6 linked regions of the Homo sapiens genome follow. The protein of the gene in region 1 purifies or fractionates together with the protein of each later gene. This does not show direct contact. Each region holds a gene or a part of one and is shown in the gene's direction. Other genes may lie near its edges.

The links.
Region 2: the proteins of YLPM1 (region 1) and SMARCC2 fractionate together in Homo sapiens (co-fractionation; one large-scale study listed by BioGRID). This does not show direct contact.
Region 3: the proteins of YLPM1 (region 1) and NCKIPSD purify together in Homo sapiens (co-immunoprecipitation; one large-scale study listed by IntAct). This does not show direct contact.
Region 4: the proteins of YLPM1 (region 1) and ECI2 purify together in Homo sapiens (co-immunoprecipitation; one large-scale study listed by IntAct). This does not show direct contact.
Region 5: the proteins of YLPM1 (region 1) and NBEAL2 purify together in Homo sapiens (tandem affinity purification; one large-scale study listed by IntAct). This does not show direct contact.
Region 6: the proteins of YLPM1 (region 1) and CEP135 purify together in Homo sapiens (co-immunoprecipitation; one large-scale study listed by IntAct). This does not show direct contact.

What each region holds. Positions count from the first base shown.
Region 1 is NC_000014.9:74,783,816-74,787,315, forward strand, and holds part of YLPM1 (YLP motif-containing protein 1), read left to right. Parts: intron 1-3,500. UniProt on the Homo sapiens protein: Plays a role in the reduction of telomerase activity during differentiation of embryonic stem cells by binding to the core promoter of TERT and controlling its down-regulation.
Region 2 is NC_000012.12:56,165,484-56,168,983, reverse strand, and holds part of SMARCC2 (SWI/SNF complex subunit SMARCC2), read left to right. Parts: intron 1-789; coding exon 790-924; intron 925-3,284; coding exon 3,285-3,500. UniProt on the Homo sapiens protein: Involved in transcriptional activation and repression of select genes by chromatin remodeling (alteration of DNA-nucleosome topology).
Region 3 is NC_000003.12:48,675,916-48,679,415, reverse strand, and holds part of NCKIPSD (NCK-interacting protein with SH3 domain), read left to right. Parts: coding exon 1-39; intron 40-232; coding exon 233-361; intron 362-446; coding exon 447-539; intron 540-679; coding exon 680-852; intron 853-3,500. UniProt on the Homo sapiens protein: Has an important role in stress fiber formation induced by active diaphanous protein homolog 1 (DRF1). Induces microspike formation, in vivo. In vitro, stimulates N-WASP-induced ARP2/3 complex activation in the absence of CDC42.
Region 4 is NC_000006.12:4,122,076-4,125,575, reverse strand, and holds part of ECI2 (enoyl-CoA delta isomerase 2), read left to right. Parts: exon of another isoform or gene 1-205; coding exon 206-326; exon of another isoform or gene 327-616; intron 617-3,500. UniProt on the Homo sapiens protein: Able to isomerize both 3-cis and 3-trans double bonds into the 2-trans form in a range of enoyl-CoA species. Has a preference for 3-trans substrates.
Region 5 is NC_000003.12:47,000,166-47,003,665, forward strand, and holds part of NBEAL2 (neurobeachin-like protein 2), read left to right. Parts: coding exon 1-239; intron 240-835; coding exon 836-1,014; intron 1,015-1,113; coding exon 1,114-1,273; intron 1,274-1,523; coding exon 1,524-1,661; intron 1,662-1,754; coding exon 1,755-2,123; intron 2,124-2,205; coding exon 2,206-2,355; coding exon of another isoform or gene 2,356-2,369; intron 2,370-2,479; coding exon 2,480-2,637; intron 2,638-2,791; coding exon 2,792-2,916; intron 2,917-3,008; coding exon 3,009-3,144; intron 3,145-3,500. UniProt on the Homo sapiens protein: Probably involved in thrombopoiesis. Plays a role in the development or secretion of alpha-granules, that contain several growth factors important for platelet biogenesis.
Region 6 is NC_000004.12:56,011,445-56,014,944, forward strand, and holds part of CEP135 (centrosomal protein of 135 kDa), read left to right. Parts: coding exon 1-78; intron 79-355; coding exon 356-541; intron 542-3,500. UniProt on the Homo sapiens protein: Centrosomal microtubule-binding protein involved in centriole biogenesis. Acts as a scaffolding protein during early centriole biogenesis.

The sequences.
Region 1 (3,500 bases):
ACATTATTATCTCATGGAAGTCTTCTCAACAACCTGTGAAGTAGGCAGATTATTCTCCATTTACTCTTAACAAAATGGCACTGAGAGGACTGCGTAACTTGCTCAGTCAGGATTATTTAGCAGAGTGAGTAGAACCCCAGAATAGGTACAGTTGAGTCTAGAGGGTCCCCAAAGCAAAAGTACTATTTAAGCTCTGTTTACTGCCATGATTCAAGCCTATACTGTCAGTGCTTATTTGGCATGTGTATCATCTTGATTTGAATTCGTTCTTAATCTCCTGGAATGAGCATTGCCTTTTAGATCTGGTAACTAATTTGCTATCAGAGAAGTACATTCTTAACACCTCATGAAACATACATTTCCTGCTCCCTTGATTTCCGTCATGTTAATATTTTCTCTCTTTGCCTACTAAATCTTGGCTGTGTGAATTTAGGACCTATTTTAAGTTTTGTCTTCAGAAGAAAATAACTTCTCAAGTTAATAATCTCTGTGCTGGGAGGATATTAGCAATTATCTAATATATCTGTCTACGGCAACGCACGTTTGTATTCCATTTCAGTTTGTCACAATGAGTCTTGCACATATCATCTTATTTATTCCTCTTAGTGATATCAGGAGGTAAATAAATACATAAGAAAAGCTGAGATTCAGAGAGGTTGTAAATACCTTGCCTCATATAACACAGCTAGTAAATGGTCAAGATGAGATTAGAATCCAAGGACTTCTGACCCACTTTAAGTCCATTGTACTTTCTGTGATGAGCAGTTGTATGCTTAACATTGGCATTGTGATTAGGAACACTGCCATATAAGGCATTGATTCTAGAAAGTTTGTTTTTTACATTGAACCTAAATGTGATTCTTTAACTTTTATCTGTTGATTCTAGATTTGCCTCTGGAGCAACACAGAATGAATTATCCTATGCCTCTTCTACAGCATGTCACTACAGTTATTTAAAAACTATTACCCTCATGTCTCCCTCACCCTACCTCACCCAGTTTGCTCTGCCAATCACAACTCAGATTCTTTTCATCTTAACATTGTTTCTAACCTCATCCTGCTGTACTGCTCACTGTCCTTTGAAGGGCCTTTAGTTTGTTAGTCTCCTTCAGAATGAACACTTACTTCAGATGCAGAGGAGCATGGGCCTAGTACCAACTTCATTATAAATAATGTGCTTATATTGTATAGCTTAACAAATTGCTTTTTTGTTTGTTTTTTTCAGCACTCTCACAGTGTTGACTCTTGTTGAACTTAACATCAATCTAGCTTCCCAGGTCTTTTTCACATTAGCTTTTATTAAGCCAAGTCTCTCTTATCCTGAACTTGTGTGGTTGGTTTTTTGTTTTTGTTTTTCTTGTTCCTTTTTCTAAGACTTTACATTTCTCTTTAGATTGTTTTCTAGTTAGGTTTGCACCATCATTTCAGTCTGCTGAAATCTTGGTCAATGATGATTATATTGTTTTAGGTATGTGATATCCCTCTTCAGCATTTTCATCTGCAGCTTTGATAAGGATGGCTTTTTAATCCTTGAATTGGATCCTACTCACATTATCCACCTTGTTTTGAAAACGTTTCCCCTAACTAGCTTATGTCATTGCCATTTCAGTCACCCCCTGCTGCTTTTGCTCACTCAGCCCTTATAGAGTATAGTTTGGGACTGTTACCCAGGCATAGTTCTTTTTCTCCAGTGTAACTAGGTAAAAAATCAGTGGGAAGCTGGTTAGTGAGTGAACAAGACTGAGGTAAGAATAATCTATACTATTAAGGAAACCTGTGAACTTCTTGTATTTCTAATTCAGATTTTGCTATCAAACATATAACTGATATGAGAAGCCACTTTTTTTAAATAATCAAAGCTGATTAGAAAAACAAGAGTTTAGAACACAACTAAACAAATTTACTGATAACATGCTGTTACAAATAAAGTACTGTAAATGGCTTTGAGTTTTTGCAAAATCCAGATTTAAGCTGCTTTATAAAAACGAGATTTCTAAAAAGTCATGTGACAAAACTGCATGACATGTAAATAACATATCACATTGTTGAGAGTCTAGGGGAGCTGTTTTGACACTGTGTATATCATTGGATTCACTCAGTCTTCCAGAAGACTACCGTTGGTCCAGAAAACTGTCATATCAATGGATGTTGGTTTTCCAGGACCTTTTTTTTCACATATAATAAAACTTATTGAAACGTAACAGAGAAGTGCACAATTTTAAGTGTTCAGCTTAGTGAATTTTCACAAAATAAAGACACACATTGGCCAGGTGCGGTTGCTCATGCCTGTAATCCCAGCACTTTGGGAGGCTGAGGGGGGAGCGGATCATGAGGTTAAGAGTTCGAGACCAGCCTGGTCAATATGGTGAAACCCCATCTCTACTAAAAAATACTAAAATTAGCTGGCATGGTAACATGCGCCTGTAGTCCCAGCTACTTGGGAGGCTGAGGCAGGAGAATTGCTTGAACCCGGGAGGCGGAGGTTGCAGTGAGCCAAGATCGTGCCACTCTACTCCATCCTGGGTGACAGAGTGAGACTCCGTCTCAAAAAAAAAAAAAAAAAAAAAGGCACACATGGTATCACTACTAGATCAAGAAATAGGAATTACTGGTGCCCAAGAAATCTCCCTCATCCCCCTCAGTTATTTTCTAATACCCCAAAGATAACTGCTATACTGAGCCATAGATTAGTTTTGCCTATTTTTGAACTTCATGTGAGTGAAATAATACTGTATGTACTCATGAGTCTGGCATCTTTCACTTGACATTGTATTATTGTGAGAGTCATCCATGTTGTGTGTAGTAGTAGTTTATTCCCGTTCCTGTACAATAGTTCATTGTATGAATATAACACAATCTGTTTATCCATTTTAATATTAATGGTCATTGAAGTTTTTTGGTTATTATGAAAAGTGCTGCTGTGTGTCTTTTGATGCTGTATGTGTCCCTTTAGATGTATGTGTTTGTTTGTGTGTGTTTAATTTTGTTTGGATATCTATTAAGGATTGGAATTGCCTGATTATAGAGTATATACATGTTCTGCGTTAATGGGTATTGTTAAACATTTTTCCAAAGTGGTTGTTTCAGTTTATATTCTCACCAGCAGTGTTTCAGTGTTTCAGTTTTTTTGCATCCTTATCAACACTTGGTATTGTTAAACTTTTAAGGTTTAGCAATCCTAGTGGATGTTTAGTGGTATCATGATAATGGATTTAATTTACATTTCCCTGATGACTAATGAGGTTTCACTTTTTTTATTTGATTATTGTTAATTTGTATTTCCTCTTTTATGAAATGCTGATTCAAGTCTTTTTCCCATTTTTTGACTAGGTTTTATGTCTTACTGATTTTGTAGGAGTTCTTTGTGAATTCTACACATCAGTTTTTTATCCATTATATGTATTACAAATTTCTCACTGCAGGACTTTTTATTTTCTTAATGAGCACTTGAATGTAAACGCTGCATGCTGGGTACAGTGGCTCATGCCTGTAATCCCAGC
Region 2 (3,500 bases), on another chromosome or scaffold:
TTTTGAGATGGAGTCTCACTCTGTTGCCCAGGCTGGAGTGCAGTGGCACAATCTCGGCTCACTGCAACCTCCACCTCCCAGGTTCAAGCGATTCTCCCACCTCAGCCTCCCAAGTAGCTAGGATTACAGGCACGTGCCAGCATGCCCGGTTAATTTTTGTATTTTTAGCAGAGATGGGGTTTCACCCTGTTGCCCCAGGCTGGTCTCAAACTCCTGGACTCAAGTGATCTGCTCGCCTTAGCCTCCCAAAGCGCTGGGATTACAGGCATGAGCCATCACACCTGGCCAAAATAATTTAATTTTTTAAAAAGGCTGGGCGCAGTGGCTCACGCGTGTAATCCCAGGACTTTGGGAGGCTGAGGCAGGTGGATCACCTGAGGTTGTAAGTTTGAGACCAGCCTGGCCAACATGGTGAAACCCCATCTCTACTAAAAACACAGAAATTAGCCGGCGTGGTGGCGCATGTCTGTAATCCCAGGTACTGGGGAGGCAAAGGCACGAGAATTGCTTGAACCCAGGAGGTAGAGGTTACAGTGAGCTGAGATCATGCCACTGTACTCCAGCCTGGGCAACAGAGTGAGACTGTCCCAAAAAAAAAAAAAGAAAAAAGAAAAAAGACACGGTGGCTCACGCCTATAATCCCAGCACAAAAAAGTCAAGCCCTTTCACCATGGGTTGTGACCACAGCAAATTTGTTCTTATACCTGCCAGCATCCACCCTACCTTTCTTCTGTATTGTCTTCAGTTGGGTCCTCCCACTGATGTGCTGTCTCGCCCCTCCTTCCCTAGCACTTGGCTGCTGTTGAGGAAAGGAAGATCAAATCTTTGGTGGCCCTGCTGGTGGAGACCCAGATGAAAAAGTTGGAGATCAAACTTCGGCACTTTGAGGAGCTGGAGACTATCATGGACCGGGAGCGAGAAGCAGTGAGTAGCAGGAGCCCTGGAACCCTGCTGCGCTGTGCCTCAGTTTAAAATCGGAGGGGCGTGTGTGTGTGTGTGTGTGTGTGTGTGTGTGTGTGTGTGTGTGTGTGTTTCAGTGAAAGAGAGATAAGCAACAGTGGGGAAAGCCTGAGTGTGTGTGTGTGTGTGTGTGTTTCAGTGAAAGATAAGCAACAGTGGGGAAAGCCTGAGACAGACAGGGCTTCAAAGCAGAGCAGGGCAGGAACAGGGCAGGAGTAGGGCAGCCAGTTAGAGACAGTTAAGTGGTCTCACAAGTGAAGTCTGGGGACTGAAGTCCCACAGAAGGTCAGCTCCATGAGGCAGGGACTCTAGTTGGTTGTTTTGATTGCTGCATCTCCAGGTCCTTGAACAGTGCTTGGCCCATAGTAGACTCAAATAGTGATTGAGTGAATGGGCGTAACGGATGATGAGAGAGAGGGTAAGAGCCTCAGATCCAGGAGGTGAACTTGGAAAGGGAATGGGACCGACACAGTGTTGAACCATTTTGTCTTTGGAGGACATAAAAAGAAATAGACAATAGGGACTGGGCACAGTGGCCCACATTTGTAATCCTAGTACTTTGGTACACTGAGGCAGATGGATCACTTGAGCCCAGGAGTTCAAGACCAGCCTGGGTAACATAGTGAGATCTCTGTCTCAACAATTTATTTTATTTATTTATTTATTTATTTATTTGAGACAGAGTTTCGCTCTTGTTGCCCAGGCTGGAGTGCAATGGTGTGATCTTCGCTCACCACAACGTCCGCCTCCTGGGAAGCGATTCTCCTGCCTCAGCCTCCCCAGTAGCTGGGATTACAGGCATGTGCCACCATGCCCAGCTAATTTTGTATTTTTAGTAGAGATGGGGTTTCTCTATGTTGGTCAGGCTGGTCTCGAACTCCCGATCTCAGGTGATCAGCCCATCTCTGCTTCCCAAAGTGCCGGATTACAGGTGAGTCATCACGCTTTTTTTTTTTTTTTTGAGATGGAGTCTTACTCTTTCGCCCAGGCTGGAGTGCAGTGGTGCAATCACGGCTCACTGCAACCTCCGCCTCCTGGGTTCAAGCGATTCTCCTGCCTCACCTCCCGAGTAGCTGGGATTACAGGCACATGCCACCATGACCAGCTAATTTTTGTATTTTTAGTAGAGACAGGGTTTCACCATGTTGGCCAGGCTGGTCTCAAACTCCTGACCTCAGGTGATCCGCCCACCTCAGCCTCCCAAAGCGCTGGGATTTCAGGCATGAGCCACCGTGCCCAGCCCAAACATTTTTTAAAAATAAACAAATTAGCCGGGCGTGGTGGTGCGAGCCTGTGGTCCCAGCTACTCAGGAAGCTGAGGTGGGAGGATCGTTTGAGCCCAGGAGGTCAAGGCTGCACTGAGCCATGTTTGCCCCATTGCATTCCAGCCTGGGTGACAGAGTGAGACCCTATCTCAAAAAAAAAAAAAAGAAGAAAAAGAAATAGAAGATAGGGACCTCAGAGAACTTAAGGTTTAATGGGAGACATCAAATGAATATACAATATGGAGACATCAGAAACAGTTAAGAAGGTTTAAAGTATCTGACAAATTCACATTAAGAGATTGCACATCAGCCGGGCGCGGTGGCTCACACCTGTAATTCCAGCACTTTGGGAGGCTGAGGCAGGTGGATCACGAGATCAAGGAGATCGAGACCATCCTGGCTAACATGGTGAAACCCCGTCTCTACTAAAGAATAAAAAAATACAAAAAATTAGCCCGGCATGCTGGCACACACCTGTAATCCCAGCTACTCGGGAGGCTGAGGCAGGAGAATTGCTTGAACCGGGGAGGCGGAGGTTGCAGTGAGCTGAGATCACGCTACTGTACTCCAGCCTGGGTGACAGAGTGAGACTCAGTCTCAAAAAAATAAAGAGATTGCACATCAAGTTTCTAAGTCCTGAGATCATAGAATAAAGCTAAAGCTCAGAGGCAAATGAATTGATCTGGGATAGCTTCCTAAGAACAGTGACTTTTTAGTGAATTTTGAAGTAAGAAAAGAACTTGAATTGACAAAAGGAACTGGAAGCATTTTCCAAATCAAGGTAATGGCAAGTTCAAAGCTTTGTAGCTGAAGTGAGCTTGGGCCAGGTTAAAGTCATTGCAATAAGAAACCATGTGGGCACTCAGGAGACATAAAGGTCATGGGAATTTGCACGAAGTCGGGTGGGGAGGACAGAGGGAGCACAAGCACAAGATGTAGATTTTGGGAACCTTCTGATTGAGAGGCAGGCTCTTTCAGAAGAAGACAAAGCAGGGGTTGAGGCATTTGCCTTTGGGATCTGCTGAAAATTGGATAACAATACTCAATTGGCACTGGCAGCTGGAGTATCAGAGGCAGCAGCTCCTGGCCGACAGACAAGCCTTCCACATGGAGCAGCTGAAGTATGCGGAGATGAGGGCTCGGCAGCAGCACTTCCAACAGATGCACCAACAGCAGCAGCAGCCACCACCAGCCCTGCCCCCAGGCTCCCAGCCTATCCCCCCAACAGGGGCTGCTGGGCCACCCGCAGTCCATGGCTTGGCTGTGGCTCCAGCC
Region 3 (3,500 bases), on another chromosome or scaffold:
TCTTCTCCATGGGAGAGGCAGTGCCCTATGCACACTATGGTAAGAATGCAGTAACCGACCAGCTGATCACAGGTCCTAAGCCAGGGCCCATTGCCCGAGGGCCTGGGACCTGCTGACTACACAGCCTAGCAGGGAGAGGCTATCCCCAAGGCTCACAGAAAGCCAGGAAGGGTGGGTGGTGCGGGGGTCGGAGGGGAATGGGGCTGCAGACTTCTGTGCGCCCCTCTCCCAGAGCACCTGGGCACGCCTTTCGCCCAGTTCCTACTGAACATCGTCGAGGATGGGCTGCCCTTGGACACCACAGAGCAGCTGCCGGACCTCTGCGTGAACCTGCTTCTGGCTCTCAACCTGCACCTGCCAGGTGGGGTGGGGCCTGGCTGGGCGGTGGCTGAGCACATGGTGGCTCTCAGGCTCAGCACCCTGTCTATACCCATGTCCTTCCTTAGCTGCTGACCAGAATGTCATCATGGCTGCCCTGAGCAAACACGCCAATGTCAAGATCTTCTCCGAGAAGCTGTTGTTGCTCCTGAACAGAGGGGGTGAGGGCCCGGGAATCTGCGCGGGTACCACTTCCATGCCCTGTGACTCCATGACCCCTGCAATGACTCCCGTAACCCCCTGGGGTGACTCTGGGATCCCCACAAGGTCCACCCTGACCGCTATGACCCCTGCCTCCTAGATGACCCTGTGCGCATCTTCAAACATGAGCCACAGCCACCACACTCTGTCCTCAAGTTCCTGCAGGACGTGTTTGGCAGCCCGGCCACAGCTGCCATCTTCTACCACACAGACATGATGGCTCTCATTGACATCACTGTGCGGCACATCGCAGACCTGTCACCAGGAGACAAGGTGCCTGGAGGTGGCTGCAGCAGCGGGGGTCACTGTGTGGAAACTGAAACAAAATGGTGGGGGGCATGACATTGAGTGGAGATGAGGGGGCAAGGCCACTGCTGGAGCCAGGTAAGTGTAGGAGGCCATGATAGGTGCACCAAGACCCAAAGGAGCCAGCCATGAGGTGATCTGGAGGTGGTGGGGCTGGAGGAGGCTGGAGAGGAGGGAGTGGAGGGAGATGAGGCATGGAGGATGGAGTTTACACAAAGCCTCGGAGGCTGCTGCAAGAGGTTGTGATCTCAGGACCGGGGAATGTGATGTGATTAACATCCCACATGGAATCAACTGCATGCCAGCAGAGTGGAAGCCAGCCAGGGAGGAAGCAGCCTCAGTGGTCCAGGTGGCATGGATGGGGTGGGGATGGGATAGGTCGTGGCAGTGGCAGTGGCGAGAAGAGGCCAGCTGTGGAGTGTTTAGTAAGTGGATCTGGCAGGGCTTGCCACTTGATTTATCTTGAGCAGCTAGATGGATGAAGTGCTGATTTTTGAAGTTGGGGAGGCTGGGAGAACTTCTTGGGGGAAAATAGAGAGTCGTGTTTTGAATGTGTCAAGAATGAGGAGATATCTGCTAGACACCCAGGTACCGAGGGCATCAGGGAGGCAGTGGGGAATGAGTTGAGACTAGAGAGACATTTCGGAGTGGTCTATGCAGAGATACGATGGGAAGCCTGTGACAATGTGATTGCCTCAGAAATGAGATAGATAGGCAGGTCAGCGGGAAGTTCGGGCTGCAGCCCTGGGCACAGCTGAAACAACTAGGGAGAAACCCAGGAAGAGAACCAAGAAAGCAGGAGCCCAAAGCCACATGTTTAGAGGAAGACGATCAGCCATCTCTATACCGTTAGGAGCCTGAGCGAGACTGGGGTTGGCCATTGGATTCACCACACAGAGGTCAGTGGTGCCTGACAAGCAGTGTCAGTGGGGTGCAAGGAGGAGAGTCTGAATGAAAGTTTGAGAGAGCTTGAAGTTATTGGGGAGTAGAAATGAGGGGAGGGTTGGAAGCAGTAAATGGAGACAACTCTTGTGAATTTTCTATTAAGGGGAAGAGAAAAATGGAAGGGAGGTTGCTGGAGAGAGATGACATGGGGATAGGGAGAGTGTTTTTTTGGGGGTTTTTTGTTGTTGTTGTTTGTTTGTTTGTTTGTCTCCCACTGTTGCCAAGGCTGGAGTGTAGTGGCACGATCGTGGCTCACTGTAACCTCCGCCTCCTGGTTTCAAGTGATTCTCCTGCCTCAGCCTCCCAAGTTGCTGGGATTACAGTCACCCACTACCACACCCAGCTAATTTTTATATTTTAGCAGAGACAGGGTTTCGCCATGTTGGCCAGGCTGGTCTTGAACTCCTGACCTCATGCAATCCACCTGCCTCAGCCTCCCAAAGTGTTGGGATTACAGGTGTGAGCCACCGTGCCTGGCCAGGGAGAGTGTTTTGAAGATGGGGGATGTTGGCCAGGCGCGGTGGCTCATGCTTGTAATCCCAGCACTTTGGGAGGCTGAGGTGGGTGGATCACTTGAGGTCAGGAATTCGAGACCAGCCTGGTCAAAGTGGTCTCTACTAAAAATACAAAATACGAAAAATACAAAAATTAGCTGGGTATGGTGGTGGGAGCCTGTAATCCCACCTACTTGGGAGGCTGAGGCAGGAGAATTGCTTGAACCCGGGAGGTGGAGGTTGCTGTGAGCCAAGATCACACCACTGCACTCCAGCTTGGGTGACAGATGGGGGATGTTGGCCAGGTGCAGTGGCTCACGCCTATAATCCCAGCACTTTGGGAGGCCGAAGTGGGAGGATCACTTGAGTCCATGAGTTCAAGATCAGCCTGGGCAACATAGTGAGACCTCTGTATAACCTGATGGACCACAGTAGAAAATAAAATTAGCTGGGCATGGTGGTATGCACCTGTAATTCCAACTACTTTGGAGGCTGAAGTGGGAAGATTACTTGAGCCCAGGAGGTCAAGGCTGCATTGAGCCATGATTGTGTCATTGCACTCCAGCCTGGGCAACAAAGCCAGACCTTGTCTCTTTAAAAAACAAAAACAAAAATGGTACGGATGATGGTGCATGTTCTGAGCCGGAGGGAATGATCCAGCAAGCACAGAGAGATGGATGATGTGTTGGAGATGGTGAGCCACCACAGGAGTCAAGTGGATGGGGCAGGAGGGGAGAGTTCAGGTCCAGGCCCACATGGACAGGAGCTAGGGCTGCTCATTCTGGTAGGGACAGGTGAGATGTGGGTACTGAGGGGAAAGACGGGTTTCTGCAAGATTACTTCTGTATTCTCTATGAAGCACAAGGCCAGCTGACAAGGTAGGTAGGTTTCAAAGACAGAGAAGGTGGACATTATTACTACTCTAAGGGAGAGTGACACAGCAGAGAAAAGCAGTGGGAGGCTCAGGCAGTGCTGTGTGTCCGTTTGAGGTTTGCGGTGGTGAATGACATTCAGGCCTGCACATGGCTCTGCATTTGTCTATAGCTTAGACGCTGGTGTTTGATGTGCAGGCACCTCAGTATGACTCCCAGGGCTGGGACTTAGCAGGGTGTGCTGCCTAAAGGAGGTTTTGGTATTATTTCTCTAATTAAAGGTAAAAAGAGAAATGAGGGATGT
Region 4 (3,500 bases), on another chromosome or scaffold:
TCCATCCACTGCCATTCAGACGGATGCCCTGGATGAATCTGGTGCGGAAGACCAGGGAAGTGGCAGGACAAGGAGGCACTGCTGGTGGTGGCTGTGGAAACACCCAGCCTGACAGAAGGCTTTATCTCAGAGTCAGACTGTCTTGCCCATGCTTTAGTCATGCTGCTTTGGCACATTTAATGATTTTGTGTTTCCATTTCTGTAGGGAATTTGTGGGCTGTTTTATAGATTTTCCTAAGCCTCTGATTGCAGTGGTCAATGGTCCAGCTGTGGGCATCTCCGTCACCCTCCTTGGGCTATTCGATGCCGTGTATGCATCTGACAGGGTAAGTCAGCTCCTAGAAAGCAAGAGGTCAGGCAAGCAGCGCGAGATGAGAGCCTTTGAATCCTCCTTCAGCGTTGCCAGTCATAAGCAGGTTACATGTTGTTTGTGGTAGAATTAACTGAATTTAGATTTTTCCCAAAGCATTAGGCTGATTTGACTGATTTTATTTTTCCTTCATTATTAACTTGCATTTTGTTGTGAACATTGTTCCAACTCTGACTGTTCCGGATTCTAATCAAATTCCACAATAGGTATACAGCTTTCATGTTATTCTGAAAGATTCAGGAGACACTTGAAAATTTGTTATGGGAGGGAGGAATAGCATCTTTGCAGGTTGTGCAAGGGATTAGTTGATCCTTTTTACTGAGTAAATGGATTTAGAATTTTAGAAGGAGAAGGACCTGTGAGCATTATCTACTGTCACTCCCTCCTTTGCAGATAAGAAAACTGAAGCTCTGAGAAGTTCCTTGCCCAGAACACAATTCAGCCTTGTGTTCACCATTGCATTATACAGATTTTAGTTTTTATTTTTACTACAGTAGTAATATATATGTCATAGTGGAAAATAAAATTTTGAAAGATATGAAAAAGTACCAAGAAAAGCTACAAGGTAAAAATCACTCCTTATCTTGCCACCTAGAGATAACCAGTCCTAACGTTTGGGTTATTAACTTATCTTGTTTAACCAGTCCCTGACTGCTGGAACCCTAGGCTGTTTCCAATTTTTATCATTACAAGCACCTAATAACCACCTTTAGGGTATCAGATTGTCCAGTGACTTATGCTTATGTGATGGTAAACTGTGCTGATGATTGCAGCCTTCTAGGGAGCATATGGTTTTTACCACTGAAGAGATTTCTAGTTTTGTTCAGAGGTATTTTCCCCACTGATAGACAGGACCATATAATAGCATCCTTAATTCTTCGAATTTTCTTTTGCTGGATTCCATTGAACCAGATTGGATGTATTGACAGACCTAATTCTTATGAATAATTTTCCCACAAAATTAGCAAATGAGATTCTAGGTGCCAGGCTGCCCAGCCTTTGTAGGTAGAGGTTTCTGTTCAAAGGCAGAAATCAATGTCTTTGTTCACAGTCTGTGTATTAGATGACTGATTAGTCATTGACCTGCTTTTAACAGGGACTGGGTCAATGGTTCCTGACCTAAAATTGGGGATCTCATTCTTTAATACTTGGAGGGCAAATATTGTATTTGAATCTTGTTCTGATTCTCCCACTGAATTGAAAATTACTTTCAATATACATCATCCTTATTTTTTTTTTTTTAAGAGATGGGAGTCTCACTCTGTCACCCAAGCTGGAATGCAGTGGCACGATCTTGGCTCACTGCAGCCACCACCTCCCGGGTTCAAGCGATTCTCCCACTCAGCCTCCTGAGTAGTACAGGTGCGTGCCACCACATCGAGCTAATTTTTTTGTATTTTTAGTAGAGACAGGGTTTCACTGTGTCGGCCAGGCTGGTCTCGAACTCCTGACCTCAAGTGATTCGCCTGCGTTGGCCTCCTGAAGTGCTGGGAGTACAGGTGTGAGCCACTGAGCCTGGCCTGCATCAACCTTTTAAAAATGTTGATGACTTCCATCTTATGATATAAATTGTAATAAATGTTGAAATCAGAAAACATATATACATAATACATATAAAACATATCTATTCTATATATATTATAATATATGTATATTGCATATATATATTAAATGCTAAAAAATTTGGCCAAAAGTAAAATTTATTTGTCAAATAGTGTCTTCTGATAAAAGTTTACCCAACCAAACAAATCAAGCATCATTTAAAATAAAGGAAATTGAGGTGGGCAGATCACCTGAGGTCAGGAGTTCAAGACCAGCCTGGCCAACATGGTGAAACACCATCTCTACTAAAAATATAAAAATTAGCCGGGCTTGGTGGCGGGTGTCTGTAATCCCAGCTACATTGGAGGCTGAGGCAGGAGAATTGCTTGAACCCAGGAGGTAGAGGTTGCAGTGAGCCGAGATCGTACCACTGCACTCCAGCCTAGGTGACAGAGCGAGACTCTGTCTCAAAAAAATATATAAGTAAAAAATAAATAAAATAAAGGAAATATGCTAAAGGAAAAGGCTGTAGAAAAAATTGTTTTATAAGATTTACCATTATTGGCTTCAAGAATAAATATCATATTAAATGATGGGTTAATATTTAACCCATATAACCAAAATATTAATCAGTACATTTAATCTATTTTATACTGTGGGCAATGGTTAATAATGCCTATTAGCTCTGTCAGCAAATGATACATTTCCTGTATGAGTTAAGAAAAAGGTAGAAATCATAACAATAATAAATCTTTGAGTGGTCACTGTTTAGGCACTCTATTCACATGCATTATGTATATTATAAATATACGCATACACACACACATATTCACGTAATGTACAGAGTAGCCCGATGAAAGAAGGACTTGGCCAGGCACAGTGGCTCACGCCTCTAATCCTGGCACTTTGGGAGGCCAGGGCAAGTGGATCACCTGAGGTCGGGAGTTCAAGACCAGCCTGGCCAATGTGGTGAAACCCCTTCTCTACTAAAAATACAAAAATTAGCCAGGTGTGGTGGCAGGCGCCTGTAGTCCCAGCTACTTGGTAGGCTGAGGCAAGAGTAAGGCTGGGCAACAGAGTGAGACCCTGTCTATAAAAACAAACATTCTCCTCCAATGTGGCAAAAATAAGTTTTACAATCTAGGCTGGGCATGGTGGCTCATGCCTGTAATCTTAGCACTTTGGGAGGCCAAGGCAGGTGGATCACTTGAGGTCAGGAATTCGAGACCAGCCTGGCCAACATGGTGAAGCCCCGTCTCTACTAAAAATACAAAAATGAGCTGGGTGTGGTGGTGCACGCCTATAATCCCAACTGCTCGGGAGGCTGAGGCAGGAGAATCGCTTGAACCCGGGAGGCGGAGGTTGCAGCGAGTTGAGATTGCGCCACTGCACTCAAGGCTGGGCAACCGAGCAAGACTCCGTCTCAAAAAAAAAAAAAAGCAAAGAAGGATTGGTTCCCATTTTACAAATGAGAAAACTGTGGTACAGAGAGGGTAAGAAACTTTCCCAACGTCCCTAAGTAGTCTGACGCCAGAGCCTAAACCCTTAACTCCACCTGCTGCTCTCTTTCTGAAAATCAGCATTTTAA
Region 5 (3,500 bases), on another chromosome or scaffold:
TTGACCTGGGCCTGGAACGGTCTAGTGTAGGATCAGGCAACACTGCTGGTGGTGGCGGCAGCAGTGGGACTCTTACTCCAGCCAGCCAGCCCGGCACTCCTTCGCCACTGGATGGGCCGCGGCCCTTTCCTGCTGCTCCTGGCCGCCACAGCTCCAGTCTCTCCAATGTGCTGGAGGACGGCAGCCTCCCGGAGCCCACCATTAGCGGGGATGATACCTCGAACACCAGCAACCCACAGGTGAGGTGGGCCCACCCTCTGCCACTGCATGGTACCCAAGGGAGGACACTTCTGGTACACAGGGCTGGCAGTGTAGCCTCTCCAAAGGTGTGGCCCTGTCTGACCAGGGTTGCAGCCACTGGTCAGGCCTATTGCTGTCCCCTCATAGCTCTCATCTGCAGTTGTGTTCCCAGAGGGCTCCTGGAACAGGGTGAGTCATGATGAGCCACAGTGGGTGACACCAGCCAGGCTTCAGAAGGGCCCTCAAGAGAGCCTGTAGGGCAGACACCTCACAGGGTCCAAGGGCAGCAAACTCCAAAGGCCCTGCCCTGGGCTTCTGGGTTTGGGGATGGGCCTCTGCTTGTTCTATGTGAACTGCCTCATCTCCTCTTGGGAGTCTGGCAAGACCCCAGGATTCTGCCTGGAACTCAGGTAGTAGTTGAGACCCCTATACCATTCTTCCAGGCCCTTAGTGCCAGGCTCACTGTTAGCCAAATGCTCTGACTCCTGGGTGGCTACCCCAGGAGGGGTGCTGAGTGGGGATGGGTGGGCGTCAGCCTGATTCCCTCCCTTAGCCGCCCACAACCCACGCCCACACCACCCACCTGTGCCCACAGCAAACCTCTGAGGAAGAGTTGTGCAATCTGCTCACCAACGTGCTGTTCTCGGTGACGTGGCGTGGCGTGGAAGGCAGCGATGAGGCTGCCTGGCGGGAGCGTGGCCAGGTTTTCTCAGTGCTCACCCAGCTGGGGGCCTCAGCCACACTTGTGCGCCCACCAGACTGCATCAAGCGCAGGTGAGAGGGAAAGTCTGGAGGGGGAGGGGCTTCAGGAAGCCTCGGGGGAAGGAGAGAAGATAGTCAGGTAGACCCTTGAGTTCCCCACTCACCCGCCAGCCTCCTGGAGATGATGCTGGAGTCAGCCCTGACCGACATCAAAGAGGCCCCCGTGGGGGTCCTGGCCAGCCTCACCCAGCAAGCGCTTTGGCTGCTGCGTCTGCTGCAGGACTTCCTGTGTGCTGAAGGCCATGGTAACCAGGAACTGTGGAGTGAGAAGGTGCGACCCCTCAGAGAGGCGTGAGCCACATGAACACTCATGTTCATGCAAGCCTGCAGGGATCTGGTCTGGGAGGTGGATGGGTACACGTGCGCAGGTGTGGGTGCATCAGCATGAATGCCTGTGAGTGTGGACTTGCCTGTGTGCACAAACCCTACCTGGCCCCCAGCGCAAACTTTACTTTGCTCCCTTTCCATGGACTCCTGGCCTCCCCTGGTGATGTCTGTTGGGAACCTGTTTTCTGTGGCAGCTCTTTGAAGGTGTATGCAGCCTACTTGATCGCCTGGGAGCCTGGCCCCACCTGGCCAACGGCACAGCTGATCTCCGTGAGATGGCGCAGATTGGCCTACGGCTTGTACTTGGCTACATCCTGCTGGAAGACCCACAGGTGAGCACAGGGTGAGCATGGGGGCAGGGGGCGTGTGAGATGTCGGGAGCTCCAAGAGTGGCTGGGTGCCACTCATCTCTCTTGCGCCCACAGCTGCATGCCCAGGCCTACGTGAGATTGCACATGCTGCTACAGACTGCAGTGCCAGCCCGCCGCGAGGAGGCCTGCTATGTGCTCTCCAAGCTGGAGGCTGCACTGGGGCGGGTGCTGAACACCTCTTCCTTGGAGTCAGCCACTGATGAGGCAGGGTCCCCACTTGCAGCTGCAGCAGCTGCAGCAGCTGCAGAGCGCTGCTCCTGGCTGGTGCCACTGGTGCGCACGCTGCTAGACCGTGCCTATGAGCCGCTGGGGCTGCAGTGGGGACTGCCCTCCCTGCCACCCACCAATGGCAGCCCCACCTTCTTTGAAGACTTCCAGGCTTTTTGTGCCACACCCGAATGGCGCCACTTCATCGACAAACAGGTGCCTGGAGGTTGGGGCCCAGGAAGAGGAGTGGGGGCTGGGGCCCACATCGAGCACTGTTCTCCTCTGCCCAATCCTCCAGGTACAGCCAACCATGTCCCAGTTCGAAATGGACACGTATGCTAAGAGCCACGACCTTATGTCAGGTTTCTGGAATGCCTGCTATGACATGCTTATGAGCAGTGGGCAGCGGCGCCAGTGGGAGCGCGCCCAGAGTCGTCGGGCCTTCCAGGTGTGCCACCCGGGGTAAGGGATGGGAAACTGCTCCACACATGCACCCAGGAGATGACTGACAATGTGGAGAAACGGGTAGGGCAGGCAGCAGCCAGGGGACTGACCTATTACCCCCACCCCAGGAGCTGGTGCTGGAACCTGCGCAGAGGCGGGCGCGCCTGGAGGGGCTACGCTACACGGCAGTGCTGAAGCAGCAGGCAACGCAGCACTCCATGGCCCTGCTGCACTGGGGGGCGCTGTGGCGCCAGCTCGCCAGCCCATGTGGGGCCTGGGCGCTGAGGTGGGCCGGGCTTGGGGCAGGGTCGCTGTGGAGGGGTGGGGCTTGGGAGGGAGGGAGCCACCTGGAGCCCCAGACTGCCTTTGGGGTGAGGCCAGGGAGGGATGGGGGTGTCTACAGCCTTCTACCGACCCATGACCTGGGGGACATTCTGCAGGGACACTCCCATCCCCCGCTGGAAACTGTCCAGCGCCGAGACATATTCACGCATGCGTCTGAAGCTGGTGCCCAACCATCACTTCGACCCTCACCTGGAAGCCAGCGCTCTCCGAGACAATCTGGGTGAGGGAGTGTGCTGAGATGGGTCCACCCAACTCGATTGTCCCGTCTCCTGTCCTGCCTTGCTTCTGCTGAGTACCCTTGGCCCCTTGCAGGTGAGGTTCCCCTGACACCCACCGAGGAGGCCTCACTGCCTCTGGCAGTGACCAAAGAGGCCAAAGTGAGCACCCCACCCGAGTTGCTGCAGGAGGACCAGCTCGGCGAGGACGAGCTGGCTGAGCTGGAGACCCCGTGAGTGGGGCCCTGGAGAGATTGGACTGGTGTGGTGGGCAAGGGGTCTGCTCCAGTGTGTGCATGCCTCTGTGGGATCAACTCCCTGAGTGTGTCCTCTTCTGCTGCCCGACTACGTCCCCCTGAAGGGACTGTCCAAAGCCAGATGGTGAGTGGGAGAGTCTCCTAACAGGGCTGAGAGTTGCTCTTTTAACAGCCAGGCACCTGAGGACAGCACTGAGAAACACAAACCAGAGCAGGAAGGGGGCCCAGGGAGTGGGCAGGGGCTGGGTGAGGGGAGCAGGGGACAAGGGTTGGCATCCTGGCAAAATATTCAGAAGCCCAGTGGGTGGCAGGTGGGGGACAGGGGCTGGGAC
Region 6 (3,500 bases), on another chromosome or scaffold:
GAAAAAGAAGAAATGAAGAGCAGAGTTCATAAATACATAACAGAGGTGTCACGATGGGAGAGCTTAATGGCTGCCAAGGTGAAAAATATTATTTAGGTTGGATTTAAGACTGAGGTTTTTTTTTTTTTTAACTTTTTCATGTGCCTCTACAATTAGATATTAAACATTTTAAAGTAGAGATCTTGTCTACTGCCTTTTTCTATTTTTCCCATAGATTTTAGTGTGGTACCTGCACAGATATCTAATGCTTCCTAAATTAGAACAGAATGCTGTGTATGTGTATGTGTTTATGACATAGGTGTTCCAGGAAGTGACAATTACTAATTTAGAAACAATTTTATTGTGATTAAACCAGGAAAAAGAAAATCAAGATTTGTTAGATAGATTTCAGATGCTTCATAACCGTGCTGAAGACTGGGAGGTCAAAGCCCATCAAGCTGAGGGAGAAAGCAGCTCAGTTCGACTGGAACTTCTTTCTATTGACACTGAGAGGAGACATCTTCGAGAAAGAGTGGAGCTATTAGAAAAAGAAATTCAAGAGGTAATATATTTATTTGTTTTGTAAAGATGTTATTTAGTGAAACAGAAAACATTCAAAGATACTTTATTTATTTATTTATTTATTTTTTTTGAGATGAAGTCTGACTCTGTTGCCCAGGCTGGAGTGCAATGGCACGATCTTTGCTTACTGCACCCACCTCCTGGGTTCAAGCGATTCTTCTGTCTCAGCCTCCTGAGTAGCTGGGATTATAGGAGTGTGCCACCACACCTGGCCAATTTTTTGTAGTTTTAGTAGAGATGGGGTTTCACCGTGTTGGCCAGGCTGCTCTCGAACTCCTGACCTTGAGTGATCCACCTGCCTCAGCCTCCCAAAGTGCTGGGATTACAGGCATGAGCCACCGCACCCGGCCTCAAAGATACTTTATTGACCTGAGGTCGTAAACATTGATAAAATCAAGTTCAGTGGTAAATTTCTGTCATTCTCATAATTTGCATAGAAGCCCATTACTTTTTTTTGTAGTAAAAGATACATACATCAAATTTCCCATTTTAACTATTTTTAAGTAGACAGTTCTGTGGCATTAGTACATTCACAATGTTGTGTAACTATCACCATTATTTGTCATTCTGCTTTCTGTCACTATGAATTCGATTACTCTAGATACCTCATATAGTGGAATCACACAATGTTTGTCCTTTTGTGACTGATTTCACTTAGCCTTAAGGTTTACTTTACCTCAAGGTTCATCCATATTGTGTAGCATGTGTCAGAATTTCATCCTTTTTTAAGGCTGAATAACATTTCATTGTATGTATGTACCACATTTTTGTTTAGCCATTCCTCTGTCAATGGACATTTGATTTGTTTCTACCTTTTGGCTGTTGTGAATAATGCTGCTATGAACATGAGTATACAAATATATCTGTTCGGGTGCTTGCTTTCAGTTCTTTTGGGTATATACCCAGAAGTGGAATTACTGGATCATATGATAATTCTGTGTTTAATTTTTTGAGGAATAGCCATGTGGTTTTTCCGTAGGTGCTACACCATTTTACATTTCTACCAGCAATGCACGAGGGTTCCAGTTGCTCCATATCCTTGCCAACACTTGTAATTTTTTTATTTTTTATAAGAGCCGTCATAATGGGAATAGAGCGGTATCTCGTGGTTCTGATTTGCATTTCCTTAATGGTTAGTGATGTTGAGCATCTTTTCATTTGTTTATTGACGATTTGTGTATCTTCTTTGGAGACATGCTTATTCAAATCCTTTGTTCATTTTTTAATCAGATTGTTTTAAATTGTTGTTGTAGAAGTTCTTTACATATTCTGGAGATTAATACCTTAGTGTATACGTGATTTGCAAATATTTTCTCCCATTGTGTGGGTTGCCTTTTCAACAGTTTTTGATGTACAGAAGTTTTCAATTTAAATGAAGTCCAATTTTTTTTTTCCTTTGATGCCTATACTTGTGGTGTCATATCCAAGAAATTATTGTTAACTGCAATGTCATAAAGCTTTTCCCCTATGTTTTCTAATAAGAGTTTTATAGTTTTAGCTCATATATTCAGGTCTTTGTTTCATTTTGAGTTAATTTTTACAAATGATATAAGAGCCCAGCATCATTTTTTTGCATGTGGATTTAAATAAGATTTTGTCATAAAGACAGTCTGATAAAAATCTCATAATAAAAAATTTGAGTTCAGTTAAAATATAGGGACCCTGGGTTAGATTGATATACAATAGTTGGCCATTATTGTCATTTTTGTTTTGTTTTGTTTGTATAGTTTTATAATTTTTATCTTTCAGGAGAAAGTATTGACTATCTGTAGCAGATAGAATTATAGCCTCCAGAAAGATATATTGAGCCCCAGTCTCTTATTTGGAAAAAGTGTCTTTGCAGATGGAATCAAGTTAAAATGAGGTCATAGCGGATTAGGGTTAGACCCTAAGACCAATGGACTGATGTCTTTATAGGACAATGGATATTTGGACACAGAAAACACAGGAGAGAACACCACGTAAAGATGGAGGCAAAGATTAGAGTGATATGTGTAGAAGTCAAGGAGTGTCAAGGACTGCCAGTAGCCATCAGAAACTAGGAGAGAGGCAAAGAACAGATTCTGCTTCAGAATCTCCAGAAGGAACCAAACCTGCCAACACCTGAATTTTGGACTTCCAGCTTACCGAATTGTGAGAGAATAATTTCTATTTTTTTAGGCCACACAATTTGTGGCAATTTGTTACAGCTGCCCTAGGAAACTAATACAGATTATAGCACCAGAAAGTGGGTTGCTGCTACAACAAACACCTGAAAATATGAAAGTGGCTTTGGAATTGGGTAATGAGTAGAGACTGAAAGAGTTTTGAAGTGCTTGACAGAAAAAGCCCAGATTGCCTTGAAGAGATCATTGGTAGAAATAGGGACATGAAAGGCAATTGTGATGAAGACTCAGAAGAGATGAGAGCTGTAAAGAAAACTTCTATTATTTACAGAATACATATGTTGTCATGGATGGATTTTGCCAGAAATATGAATGTTTCCTCTGGTGATGTCTCAGACAGAGTTGAGAAAAGATGTTACTTGTTATAAAGTGACAGAGAACTTGGCTAAGTTACGGTCTACTGTTGGGAGAAAAGTAGAATTTGTAAGGGATGAACTCGGATATTTAGCTGAGGAGATTTCCAAGCAAAGTGCGGAAGAGACATCCTGGTTTCTCCTTGTTACTTACAGTAAAATATGAGAGGAAAGAGAGAAATGGAGCAAGGAACTGAAAAGCAAAAAAGAAAGCAAGACATGAAGCCAGGTGTGGTAGCTGACACCTGTAATCCTAGTACTTTGGAAGGTCAGGGCAGGCAGATCGCTCAAGCAATCCACCTGTGTCCACCAAAAAACTACGCTCAGGAGTTCAAGACCAGCCTGGACAACATGGCAAAACCCCATCTCTACAAAAAATACAAATAATTAGCCAAACATGGTGGCACGTGGCTGTAGTCCC